Linked DNA regions of Homo sapiens: all the other regions are linked to region 1. Evidence: fine-mapped expression QTL. A gene starts in region 1. Each other region holds a variant in brackets. All regions are shown on one strand. Distances are between the middles of the regions.

Evidence for each region. PIP is the estimated chance that this variant, and not a neighbour inherited with it, causes the effect. A credible set is the group of variants that fine-mapping cannot tell apart.
Region 2: its variant is the best candidate, but not a certain one, in a credible set for the expression of KPTN in aorta (GTEx, PIP 0.88).
Region 3: its variant is the best candidate, but not a certain one, in a credible set for the expression of KPTN in sun-exposed skin (GTEx, PIP 0.59).

Annotation. Positions count from the first base shown.
Region 1 is chr19:47,482,199-47,486,435 of GRCh38, forward strand. It overlaps KPTN (kaptin, actin binding protein), which reads right to left and starts at 2,021. Exons shown (of 12, transcript NM_007059.4): 1 at 1,737-2,021; 2 at 1,304-1,386; 3 at 1,097-1,181; 4 at 963-1,017. The coding sequence starts at 1,962. NAPA-AS1 (NAPA antisense RNA 1) reads left to right here and starts at 2,084. Exons shown (of 4, transcript NR_038452.1): 1 at 2,084-2,326. It also overlaps a transcript of NAPA not described here. RefSeq lists enhancers at 1,946-2,235, 2,266-2,395.
Region 2 is chr19:47,561,104-47,565,340 of GRCh38, forward strand. The region is part of intron 2 of ZNF541 (zinc finger protein 541); the gene reads right to left. Among named protein-coding and RNA genes, the nearest start is that of ZNF541, 9.9 kb to the right of the region's middle. The variant C/T (reference allele first, on the strand shown) is at 1,705.
Region 3 is chr19:47,578,802-47,583,038 of GRCh38, forward strand. It overlaps the pseudogene RN7SL322P. Among named protein-coding and RNA genes, the nearest start is that of ZNF541, 7.8 kb to the left of the region's middle. The variant A/G (reference allele first, on the strand shown) is at 1,912.

The DNA.
Region 1 (4,237 bases):
GATGCTCCGGCCAGGCGTGGTGGCTCACGCCTGTAATCCCAGCACTTTGGGAGGCCAAGGCGGGCGGATCACCTGAGGTCAGGAGTTCGAGACTAGCCTGGCCAACATGGCAAAAACCTATCTATACTAAAAATACAAAAATTAGCCGGGCATGGTGGTGTGAGCCTGTAATCCTAGCTACTCAGGAGGCTGAGGCAGTAGAATCACTTGAACCAGGGAGGTAGAGGTTGCAGAGATCGAGCCACTGCACTCCAGCCTGGCAACAGAGCGAGCATCTATCTCAAAAAAAAAAAAAAAGAAAGAAAAAAAAAGTGCAATGCTTTAAAAAACAAATGTAGAATCTGATTGTCTATGGACAAGTTCGTGGTCTCCAGTTAGCTACAGCTTTCCAACCTCAGCTGCATATGTGTGTGTGCACATGTGCTCCCTGTTATATTACATTTGTGCTTTCCATTCTCACATGACCTCTCTGGTCCCCAAAGGCATTTTAGTTTAATTTCATTTTATTTTATTTATTTATTTTTGAGACAGAGTTTCGCTCTTGTCACCCAGGTTGGAGTGCTGTGGTGCAATCTTGGCTCACTGCAACCTCCGCCTCCCGGGTTCAAGTGATTCTCCTGCCTCAGCCTCCTGAGTAGGCTGGGATTACAGGCACACACCACCATGCCCAGCTAATTTTTGTATTTTTAGTAGAGACGGGGTTTCGCCATGTTGGCCAGGCTGGTCTCAAACTCCTGACCTCAGGTGATCCGTCTGCCTCAGCCTCTCAAAGTGCTGGGATTACAGGTGTGAGCCACCGTGCCCGGCTGGCATTTTAGTTTTCAATCCCTAATCTAGTACAACCTCTTTATTTTCCAGAAGGGGAAACAGACTACAGGGGTCTGTAAGTAAAGAAGGGGTTCGAGAAGCCAGGGTTTCTACATTTACAGTGGAGTGGGCGTCGATGCGCAGGGGACACTCACTCCGCATGGCACAGCTGGAACGGAGTGAACTGGAGCTCCAGGTTCAGGCAGCTCTCTGTAGGCAGGGCACAGGCAGGTTAGCATGGGGGACCTGCTGGGGACTCTCTCCCTCCTCCCGTCCACGCCTCACTCACGGGCAATAGAGTCAAGGTTGTACTCAGAGCCGGGCTCGTAGTCGCAGTAAATGTTCAGGAAGGGGCTGCCCTTGTCCCCTGAATCCTGGCGGAGGACACGGGGTTCAGGGGAGGGCAGGGGTGGCAGGAGGGATCCGGGGCGGCTCAGTGGAACTCACCATGTGTGTAAGGAGGAGGGCGAAGGGAGGTGGAGGGGGCTCTAGGTACCTTGATGAACGTGATCCCCACAACCAGACCCCGCTTGGGGGGTGACTTGTTGAAAGTGTCGATGGAGACAATCTCCGCATCCACTGGGAGGGGAGAGTTCTAAGTTCAGTGTCAGGCAGACTCATGCTTCCAATCTCCCCAACATGGTGAGCTCTGGCTACCGCAATGATCATGCCCTCTGGTCTGAGTCCTGACCACCATCACCTGATCTCTGTTCCCTGGGTACTAGGGATCCTGACCTGTAAGTCTGAAGAATCCTGAAACCCTAGGCTCATCCGGGCCCCAACTATGCCTGCCCGCTGATCCCAGTGACCCCCTTAAAACCACCTGATCCCATTCTTCCAGCACGGTGACCCGGCTCAGACAGAGCCTCAGAAGCCTTCTCAACACCACGTTCCAGGCCCCCGCCCCCCAGCACCATAGCGCCACCCACCGGGAATGTAGTTGAACTGCAGCTCCTTGGCCACTGGCCGGATTTTCTGTCGGAGGTCTTGGTAGCGGAAGCCGAGCACCTTGCCTTTAAGGGTGGCGGCCAGCAGCTCCCCGCGCCCGCCGGCGCCGCCTGCCAGCCCGTACACATTGCTCTGCGACGAGAAGCGCGTGAAGCTGTCCTCGCGCAACGGACAAGGCCCCGCGGCCACGGCCGCCTCCCCCATCATGCCCCTCAGTTAAGCACCCTCTCCGCAGCCCCCGCCCCAACCCGCACTACCCAACCTACGACTCTCTAAGCGACCTGAACCGCCGGGTGCCCGGCCGTTGCGCGGGCTGATGACGTACGGAAGCTGCCGGCGTTGCCCTCTCCCAAGATGGCGGCCAGGTCGCCTGCTCGGGCCTCCCAGGCGACTTTGCCCCACTGCGCCCGCGCTCTCTTCTCCTTTCCATTTCTGGACCAAGGGGCTGCCATAAGGAGTCTGTGACTAGAGATGGGAGGTGGTGGCCACGGCCTCTCGCTGTATGCTGTGTGGAAGGTCGAATCATCATCATCATAAAACTTAATATTGCCCTTATGTGCCAGGAACTACTGTAAGTGCATTCCATCTAATACTTTATTAAAAATTCGCAAGGGGGTGGAGGTAGGTACTTAAATCCATTTTAGAGATGAAGGAATTGAGGCACAGAGGGGTAAAGTAACTTGCCTAAGATCACACAGCTAGTAACGAGCGGTCAGTACTGGAAACCAAACAAGGTAACTCCACAGTTCACTATTTTTTTTTTTTTTTTTTTTGAGACGGAGTCTTGCTCTGTCACCCTGGAGTGCAGTGGTGCGATCTCGGCTCACTGCAACCTCTGCCTCCTGGGTTCAAGCGATTCTCCTGCCTCAGCCTCCCAGCAGCTGGGATTACAGGCGCCACCACACCTGGCTAGTTTTTCTATTTTTAGTAGAGATGGGGTTTCGCCATGTTGCCCAGGCTGGTCTGGACCTCCTGACCTCAGGTGATCCGCCCACCTCGGCCTCCCAAAGTGCTAGGATTATAGGCGTGAGCCCCCTTGCCCGGCCTATAGTTCATAATCTTAACAGTATCACCTTTAAAATAATTAATACATTCTTCTTGCCCCCAAGGAAAAATGATCCAGCTATAATAACCACCTCCTTTATCGAACACCTACTTGGTGACAGTCATGCTGGCTCTGATAATCTGATTCCTTACAACTGTTCTGCAAGGGCCTACTGTTACCCTCCCTGCCGGTTCACTTATTCAGGATTCATTGAGCTTTTACTATGTGCCCGGACGTCCTTTGCAAATCTGTCTCACTAATCTTTGCAAGAAAGAAACCTCTACAAAGAGGTTTATTATCCCAGTTTAGAGAGAATCAAATGGAGGCTCAGAAAGAGTAAGTCCACTGACTGATATGCTAGCAAGTGGTGGGGACAGGATGTAAACCAGGTGTTTCCGACTCTGGGGCCTTCAGGGGTTCCTGTCTGTGCTGCTTTGTCCCTAGAAGGCCATGGAGGTTTGGGTACTATGTGCACATCTGTGTATCATTTCCAGAAGACATGGGTTGGCCAGCTGTCCTGGACACCTCGAGCACACACAGACTGCAAGCTCCATGAAGGCAGCAGGCTGATCTCCCTTGATCACGGCCTTATCGCCTGTACCTGGAACACAAGGCCTGACACAAAGCAGGCATTCAGAAAATATGTGTCAAAAATCACAAACTATGTGCTGAGCATGTAAGAGACAGCTCTTACATGATGGAAAGTTCTCAAAGGCAGACTGGATAACGGAGGTGGCAAGGAATTTGTGATGATTCCAGATTTCTGGATGTGGAGAGTAGAAGTTCCTGGAGGGCAGTCTGGGAATGCCGTCAGTGCTGCTGTATTCCCAGGGCCTGGCATGCAGCAGGTGCTTAGTGAATATTCGCTGAGGGAGTGGCACGTGGGTCTAGTGCCACTTCAGCAGTGCGTTTCCTTCAGGCGTCTTCCCGCCCTAGTAACCTATAAGCCACATGTTGAGCGGATGAATGAAAAAATGAAGTTACAGGTTAGGAAGGAATCATCCTGTTAAGAGGTTTCCAATCCTAGCTGCACACTTGAACTGCCTATGAAGTTTTAACAAAACAAACCAAAACAGGCCGGGCCTGGTGGCTCATGCCTGTAATTCCAGAACTTTGGAAGCTGAGGCAGGCGGATCAACTGAGGTCAGGAGTTTGAGACCAGCCTGGCCAACATGGTGAAACGCTGTCTCTGCTAAAAATACAAAAATTAGCTGGGCGTGGTGGCGCACGCTTGTAATCCCAGCTACTCGGGAGACTGAGGCAGGAGAATCGCTTGAACCCGGGAGGCAGAGGTTGCAGTGAACCAAGATCGCACCACTGCACTCCAGCCTGGGCGATAGAGCGAGACTCTGTCTCAAAAAAAAAACAAACCCAAAAACCCCCAAAGGGTAGGAAACCTCAGTCAAACCACAATTTATCAGAGTGCGGCCCCAGTCT
Region 2 (4,237 bases), 79 kb after region 1:
CTATTTTGCATGATAATCTAATGCTGCATACCTGACATTATACCATAGTCAAAACCCACAGAACTATACAACACAGAGACTGAGCTCTGGCTGGGTGTGGTGGCTCACACCTGTAATCCCAGCACTTTGGCCCAGGAGTTTGACAAAGTCAGACCCTGTCTCTATGAAAAAAAATTTTTTTTTAATTAGCTGGGCATGGTGGCACATGCTTGTGGTTTCAGCTACTTGGGAGGCTGAGGAGGGTGAATCGCTTGAGCCCAAGAATTGGAGGCTTCATTGAGCTATGATTGCGCCACTGCACTCCAGCCTGGGCAACAAAGTGATACCCTGTCTCAAAATAATTAATTAATTAAGTATTAAAAAAATTAAAAAATCCAAATGAATAAAAAAAGAGCTTCCACATATTCCTGGGAATTTAGAAGGTGGCATCTCAGGGTGGGCACATGTTTGGAAAGGACCAGAGAAGGCTTCCAAGCTCTCACCTCTGGCTGACCTTCGCTCTGTGCAGGCAGAGAGTGAAGGCGAAGGTAGGGTTGTTAACCGCCTGCCTGAGTGTGGAAGCAGTGCCCCGCTGCAACTACTGGGAGCTTTTTGTTTTTTGTTTTCTGTTTTGTTTTTTTTTTAGCTCCAGGAGTTTAAGAAGATCTCTGTTAAGTCACTAGCTGACCACTAAACTAACAGAACAGACTACTGACCACACCCCACAAAGAACACAATCTTTACAAAAATAGCTTAGAAAAGCCACTAAACAAACAGTTACAACCCACAATAAGCAGAAACAACCAAGCCTGAGGACAGGGAAGAAAGGAAGAATCCCATTCCCAGAGTTACCAGACTGCAATATGCAAAATATCCAGTTTACAGGCTGGGTGCAGTGGCTCACGCCTGTAATCCCAGCATTTTGGGAGGCCGAGGCGGGTGGATCACCTGAGGTCAGGAGTTCAAGACTGGCCTGGCCAACATGGCGAACCCCCGTCCCTACTAAAAATATAAAAATTAGCTGGCTGTGGTGGCAGGCACCTGCAATCCCAGCTACACGGGAGGCTGAGGCAGGAGAATCGCTTGAACTCGGGAGGTGGAGGCTGCAGTGAGCCAAGATCGTGCCACTGCACTCCAGCCTGGGCGACAGAGACTGTCTCCCCAAAAAAAACAAAAACAGGCCAGGCGCGCTGGCTCATGCCTGTAACCCCTGCACTTTGGGAGGTCCGGGAGGGCGGATCACTTGAGGTCAGGAGTTCAAGACCAGCCTGGCCAACATGGTGAAACGCCATCTCTACTAAAAATACAAAAATTAGCTGGGCGTGGTGGTGTGTGCCTGTAATGCCAGCTACTCAGGAAGCTGAGGCAGGAGAATCGCTTGAACCCGGGAGATGGAGTCTGCAGTGAGTTGAGATTGTGCCACTGCACTCCAGCCTGGGTGACAGACTGAGACTCCATTTCAAAAAAAACTAAAAACAAAAAACAAAACAAAAAAAACCAAACAGATAAAATGTCCAGTTTTCGAATCATGGAAGCTTGAGAAAAATGAGAGATCGAGTTTTTCAGCAAAAAATTATGAGTCATGAAAACAAAAAAGCATAGCCCCTTCAGATGGCCATCTGTCTCACACAAATGGAATCAGATGACCTGTGGCCTTCTGTGTCTGGCTTCTTTCACTAAGCACAGTGTTTTCAAGGTTCACCCCCATTGCAGCACGTGTCACTG[C/T]TCCATTTCTTTCCAGGGCTAAATAATGTTCCCCTGTCTGGAGAGACCACATTTTGTTTAACCACTCTCCTGTTGATGAACATTTGGGTTACTTCCATTTGGGGGCTATTGTGAATAATTCTGCTCACACCTAGATGTTAAAGAAATGCTTCATGACTCACTGAATAACAAATCTAGTGCATACTTGAATAACGGGAGTTTGGGACTAGATTTCTAGGCCACCAGTTTCTACTTTCTAAGAACTTTTCATGTTGATATGTAATAGAACCTCTGCACCTGCAATGTCTGCATTGCATGTTATATGTCTACCTGCCTGTCTGCGTGTATGCAGCCTATTGAGGCAGCACAAATTTAAAGTCACATACAGGTACGTAATCCCATATACAACTCTGAGACCCAACTGAGTTTCAGAATTTGAGGGGGTTTTAGAAGTGTAAATCAATGCATACCCCGTATTTTAAGTAACTTCCAGTGGGGTTCAAGGCAGTACCTGGTAACCAAATAATTATTTCTGCATCATTGCCTATGACCACTCAGCGTACGTGAAATAAAGGCTGTGAAAAGCAACATGTAGGGTCAGGTTTGGCCACCAGATGATATTCGAGATGCCTCAGGATTCTCAGAGCTTTTTGGGTTTCCAAAAAATCAGGGAGAGGAGTGTGGATCTGTAAGCCAAATTCAAATTTCACCAGTTCCACAGTGTCTGCTACAGTGCTGCTATAAACTGTTTTCACCACTCTATGAGGGGAAAAACCCATCTCCCCCTGCATCTCCCAATAATAAAAACAAGTGAATAAAAATCACATATATATTTTTTGAGACGAAGTCTTGCTGTGTCCCCTAGGCTAGAGTGCAGTGGTGCAATCTCGGCTCACTGCAACCTCTGCCTCCTGGGTTCAAGCAATTCTCTTGTCTCAGCCTCCCAGTACCTGGGATTACAGGCACTCACCACCACGCCTGGCAAATTTTTGTACTTTTAGTAGAGATAGGGTTTCACCACGCTGGTCAGGCTGGTCTCAAACTCCTGACCTCAGGTGATCCACCCGCCTCGGCCTCCCAAAGTGCTGGGATTACAGGCATAAGCCCCCGCGCCTGGCCTAAAAATCGTATTTATTAAGCACTTTCTCCACATCGGGTATCATACCAAGTGCTTTATATGCATTAACTTACTTCTCACAAAAACCTAGATTGTAGTATTACTTCCCTTTTACAAATAAGAGAGACTAATTTGTCCAAAGTCAAAACCCAACAGCCAGATCTTAAACCCAGATACTCTGACATTAGCGCTAATGGTCTTGCCCATTACACAGTACTGATTCCCTATAAACTGAACTGTATACTGCACTGCTCCAATTAAACTACAAAACACATAAGGTGCTGGGTCAGGGGGAAGAATGTCTCTGGACTCCCCAAGGCCAAATCACCTGCTTTCCAATATACTCCCATAGTCCACAGAACAAACTGGTCAGGTTACAACCTCAGACAGGCAAGCCAAAAGTCCAAAGGCCATGCCTTGATATTTACATCCTTCTCCAGACAGTAAAGCAAAACCCTCTCTACCGATACTGAGCTTCCTTTTATTCTGTCAACAAATACATTCAATTCAACAAGAGTTTTAGCACCTTCTAGGTACAAAACTCTCTGCTAGCCCTTACGAGGCAGAGTTTATGGTCTCCTGCAACCCGGCAGACATTCCCAAGGACCCAAATACTCTTTCCAAGAATTTTATCATTTTGTGTTTTCATTTAAATGCTCAACATCACTAACGATCAGGGAAATGCAAATCAGAACCACAATGGGATACCACCTTACTCCTGCAAGAATGGCCGTAATCAAAAAATAAAAAAATAACAGATGTTGGCATGGATGCGGTGAACAAGAAACCTTTCTACACTGCTGGTGGGAATGTAAACTAGTACAGCCACTATAGAAAACAGTGTGGACATTCCTTAAAGAACAAAAAGTGGAACTACCATTTGATCCAGCAATCTCACTCCTGGGTATCTACCCAGAGGAAAAGAAGTCATTATAAGAAAAAGATACTTGCACATGCATGTTTAGAGCAGCATAATTTGCAATTCCAAAAATACGGAACCAGCCCAAATGCCCACCATCAATCAAGGAGTGGATAAAGAAATATATATATGATGGAATACTACTCAGCCATAAAAAGGAACGAAATAATGGCATTCACAGCAACCTGGATTGAACTGGAGACTATTATTCTTCTAAGTGAAGTAACTCAGGAATGGAAAATCAAACATCGTATGTTCTCACTTTGTAAGTGAGAGCTAAGCTATGAGGATTAAAGGCATAAGAATGATACAATGGACTTTGGGGACTTGGGGGGAAAGGGTGGGAGGGGATGAGGGATAAAAGACTACAAATTGGGTTCAATGTATACTGCTTGGGTGATGGGTACACTAAAATCTTACAAATCACCACTAAAGAACTTACTCATATAACCGAGTACCACCTGTTCCCCCAAAATCTATGGAAATAAAAAACTAAAAAAAGAAAAAAGAAAAGAAAA
Region 3 (4,237 bases), 97 kb after region 1:
TTTTTTTTTTTTTTTGAGACAGAGTCTCGCTCTGTCGCCCAGGCTGGAGTGCAGTGGCGCAATCTCAGCTTGCTGTAAGCTCCGCCTCCCGGGTTCACGCCATTCTCCTGCCTCAGCCTCCCGAGTAGCTGGGACTACAGGCGCCCGACACCACGCCCAGCTAATTTTTGTATTTTTAGTAGATGGGGTTTCACCGTGTTAGTCAAGATGGTCTCGATCTCCTGACCTCGTGATCTGCCGGCCTCGGCCTCCCAAATGCTGGGATTACAGGCGTGAGCCACCACGCCCAGCCTTTTTTTTTTTTGAGATGGAGTCTGGCTCTGTCTCCCAGGCTGCAGTGCAATAGCATGATCTTGACTCACTGCAACCACCGCCTCCCAGGTTCTGCCTCAGCCTCCAGAGTAGCTGGGATTACAGGCGCCCGTCACCACACCCAACTAATTTTTATACTTTTAGTAGAGACGGAGTTTCACCATGTTGGCCAGGGTGGTCTAGAACTCATCCTGACCTCAGGTGATCCGCCCGCCTCAGCCTCCCAAAGTGCTGAAATTACAGGCATGAACCATTGCACCCCGCCTGTTTTGTGTGTGTGTGTTTTTTTTTTTTTTTTTTTTGAGACAGGGTCTCATTCTGTCGCCCAGGCTGCAGTGCAGTGGTGCCATCTGGGCTCACTGCAATCTCCGCCTCCCAGGTTCAAGCCATTCTCCTGCCTCACCCTCCTGAGTAGCTGGGACTACAGAAGTGCACCACCATGCCTGGCTTATACATTTTTTATTTTTTGGTAGTGACGGGGTTTCACTGTGTTAGCCAGGCTGGTCTCAAACTCCTGGCCTCAGGTGAGCCGCCTGCCTCGGCCTTCCAAAGTATGAGGATTTTAGGCATGAGCCACCGAGCCTGGCCAATGTTTTTGTAGTTTTGACAAATGTATAGTTGTGTCACTTAACAACGGAGATCTGTCTGAGAGATGTATCTTCAGGTGATTTTTTCCTTGTTGCGTGAACGTCGTAAGCTGTACAAACCCAGATGGTATAGCCTAGCACACAGCTAGGCTGTATGGTGTAGCCTATTGTTCCTAGGCTACAAACATGCAGCATGCAACTGTACTGAATACTGTAGGCAGCTGAAACACAAAGGTAAGTATTTGTGCATCAAAACATAGAAAGGTACAGTAGACCAGGCGTGGTGGCTCATGCCTGTAATCCCAGCACTTTGGAGGCCGAGGCAGGTGGATCACCTGAGGTCAGGAGTTCGACACCAGCCTGGACAACATGGTAAAACCCCATCTCTACTTAAAATACAAAAATTAGCCAGGTGTGGTGGCAGGCACCTGTAATCCCAGCTACTTGGGAGGCTGAGGCAGGAGAATCACTTGAACCTGGGAGGCGGAGGCTGCAGTGAGCCGAGACCTCGCCACTGTACTCCAGCCTAGGCGATAGAGCGAGAGTCCATCTCAAACAAAAAAGAAAAGAAAAGAAAAGAAAAAAGAAAAGGTACAGTAAAAATACAGTATTATAATCTTACAGGACCTCTGTCATATGTGTAGTTCTTATTGGCCAAAACGTTGTTATGTGGCACATGACTGTCCTGTGATAAAGTAAGATGCCAACATCAGGGAAAGGGTGAGGGGGATGTGGTAACTCTTTGTACCATCTTTCCAAGTTTCCAGTAAATTTAAAATTACTCCAAAATAAAAAGTTTAGGGTGAAAAAAGAAGGAAAGGAAATGAAAATGTCCACCTATAGGAGACTGGATAAATCGTGGTATAGTTATTCAATGGAGTATTATGCAGCAGTGAAAATGAGTCAATTTCCATTACACACAGCAACACAGATGTGCTCCCATTTACATATAACATTTCAACAGGGTGTGGTGAATCGTGTCTGTAATCCCAGCACTTTGGGAGGCCGAGCC[A/G]GGAGGCATCACTTGAGGCCAGGAGTTCAAGACCAGCCTGGACCACATGGCAAGAAAAATTAAAAATAAACTGGGCATGGTGGCGTGATCTGCCTGTAGTTCCAGCTTCTCAGGAGGCAGAGGTGAGAGGAACACTTGAGCCCTGGAGGTCGAGGTTGCAGTGAGCCATGATCCCACCGCTGCACTCCAGCCTGGGCAACACAGTGAGACTCTGTCTCAAAAATAAATATCATTTCAAAACACAGGCAAAGCTAAACAATAAGCAGTTTAGGGACATAGATAGAATTATTATTTTTTTTAAAGTAAGGGAGCCAGGCATGGTGGCACACACCTGTGGTCCCAGATACTCGGGAGGCTGAGGCAGGAGGATCACTTGGGACCAGGAGTTCTGGGCTGTAGTACACTATGCCAATGCAGGGTCCACGCTAAGTTTGGCATCAGTTTGGTGGCCTCCTGAGAGCGGGGGATCACCAGGTTGCCTAAGGAGGGGTGAACTGGCCCATGTTGGAAATGGAGCAGGTCAAAACTCCTGTGTTAATCACTGGTGGGATCATGCCTGTGCATAGCCACTGCACTCCATCCTGGGCAACATAGCAAGACCCTATCTCTTAAAAAAAGAAAAAACTAGCCAGATGTGGTGGCATGTGCCTATAGTCCCAGCTACTCAGGAGGCTGAGGTGGGAGGATCGCATGAGCCCAGGAGTCCGAGGTTGCAGTGAACTATGATTGTACCACTGGACTCCAGCCTGGTCTACAAAATGTGACCTTATCTCTCATAAACAAAACAAAACAAAATAAAATGGAAGCCCCTGAGAAGCTAAGGGAAAAGATGCTCTTCAGAAGGAGAGGGGTACACCCTGGCCGCAGGTTCCTCTTCTCTGCCAACCTTTTCCTGTTGTCTCCATCTATTCACTTTGTTCAGCATTGCTTTCTGTGATTTGTCTTTTGAATCACGTCCTTCAAGCATTCTCACACTCCTCACTCCTCTCGGCCTCTAAAGGACTCACCTGGCCAAACTCCAGCCATCCTCTTCTCTGTGCCAGCCGAGCCCAGCAGAAGGAAACCACCCAGCCAGCCCAACGGGTTTTACCTGAATCAGAGAAATCACAGGCCTCAGACAGGCGCAGGGCACTCTCTATGTGTCTCTGGTGTGCTTACATTTCCCCCCTGCCCTCCAGCCCATGACTAGGTCCCACACTTCCCTGTGCACATAGAAGCCATCAGAAGGGAACCCCCTTGTCATCTGTCCCTGTGATTCCCTCTCTCAAGGATTGGGGTCTCCCTCCCTCCTTCCTTCCTTCCTTCTTTCCTTCCTTCCTTCCTTCCTTCCCTGCCTCCCGCCCTTCCTTCCTTCCTTCTCTCCCTCCCTCCCTGCCTTCCTTCCTTCCTTCTTCCCTTCCACCTCCCTCCTTCTCTCCCTCTTTCCTCTTCCATTGAAGTTTCTCCTCCTCTCCTCCTCCTCCCCCCTCCTCCTCTTCCTCCTCCTTTTCCTCCTCCCCTCCTCCTCCTCTTCCTCTGCCTGTCCTCCTCCTCCCCTCCTCTTCATCCTCCCCTTGTCCTCCTCCTCTTCCTTTCCCCCTCCTCCTCCTCTTCCTTCCCCCTCCTCCTCCCCTCCTCCTTCCCTCCTCTTCCTCTCCTCCTCCTCTTCCTCCTGCCCTCCCCCCTCTTTCTCCTCCCTCCTCTTCATTTCCTCCTCTTCTCCTCTTTCTCTTCCTGTCTCCTATATCATTCATCATCTCTCTCTCCTTCTGCCAAATCATGCCCATCACTATCCTCAAATGCTCCTGCCTCTTCCATTCATTTTTTAAAAAGAATTCCTCCCTTGAGGGAACCGAGAGATAAGAGAGACTGTAGCCACAAATCAACCACATGCAACCCAAGGACTTTGGATGCTGAGTCGAACAGACCAATGTTTTGTTTCGTTTTGTTTTTAAATTATCAGACAAGTAGAGAAATCTGAACTCTGACTGCCTATTCGATGATAGGAAAGAATTATGGTGCATTTTTTAGATGGATCACGGGATTGTGGTTATATTTCTATAAACAAACCTTATCTCCAGAGATATGAAATGAATAATCTGTACATGAAATGATGTGATGTCTGGGATGTGTTTTAAAACTATCTAGTGGGGTGAGGGTGGGGCCAATGAGAGACGGTAGAAATGAAACAGCATTGGCCATGAGTTGATAATTGGTGAGGCCCAGTGACCGGCATGTGGAGTTAATCATACTCTTTTATTTTTATATATATTTGAAAATGGGCTTATTTAAAAGTGATGTAAAAATTCCTCTCTTTGGCTGGCTGCAGTGGCTCACACCTGTAATC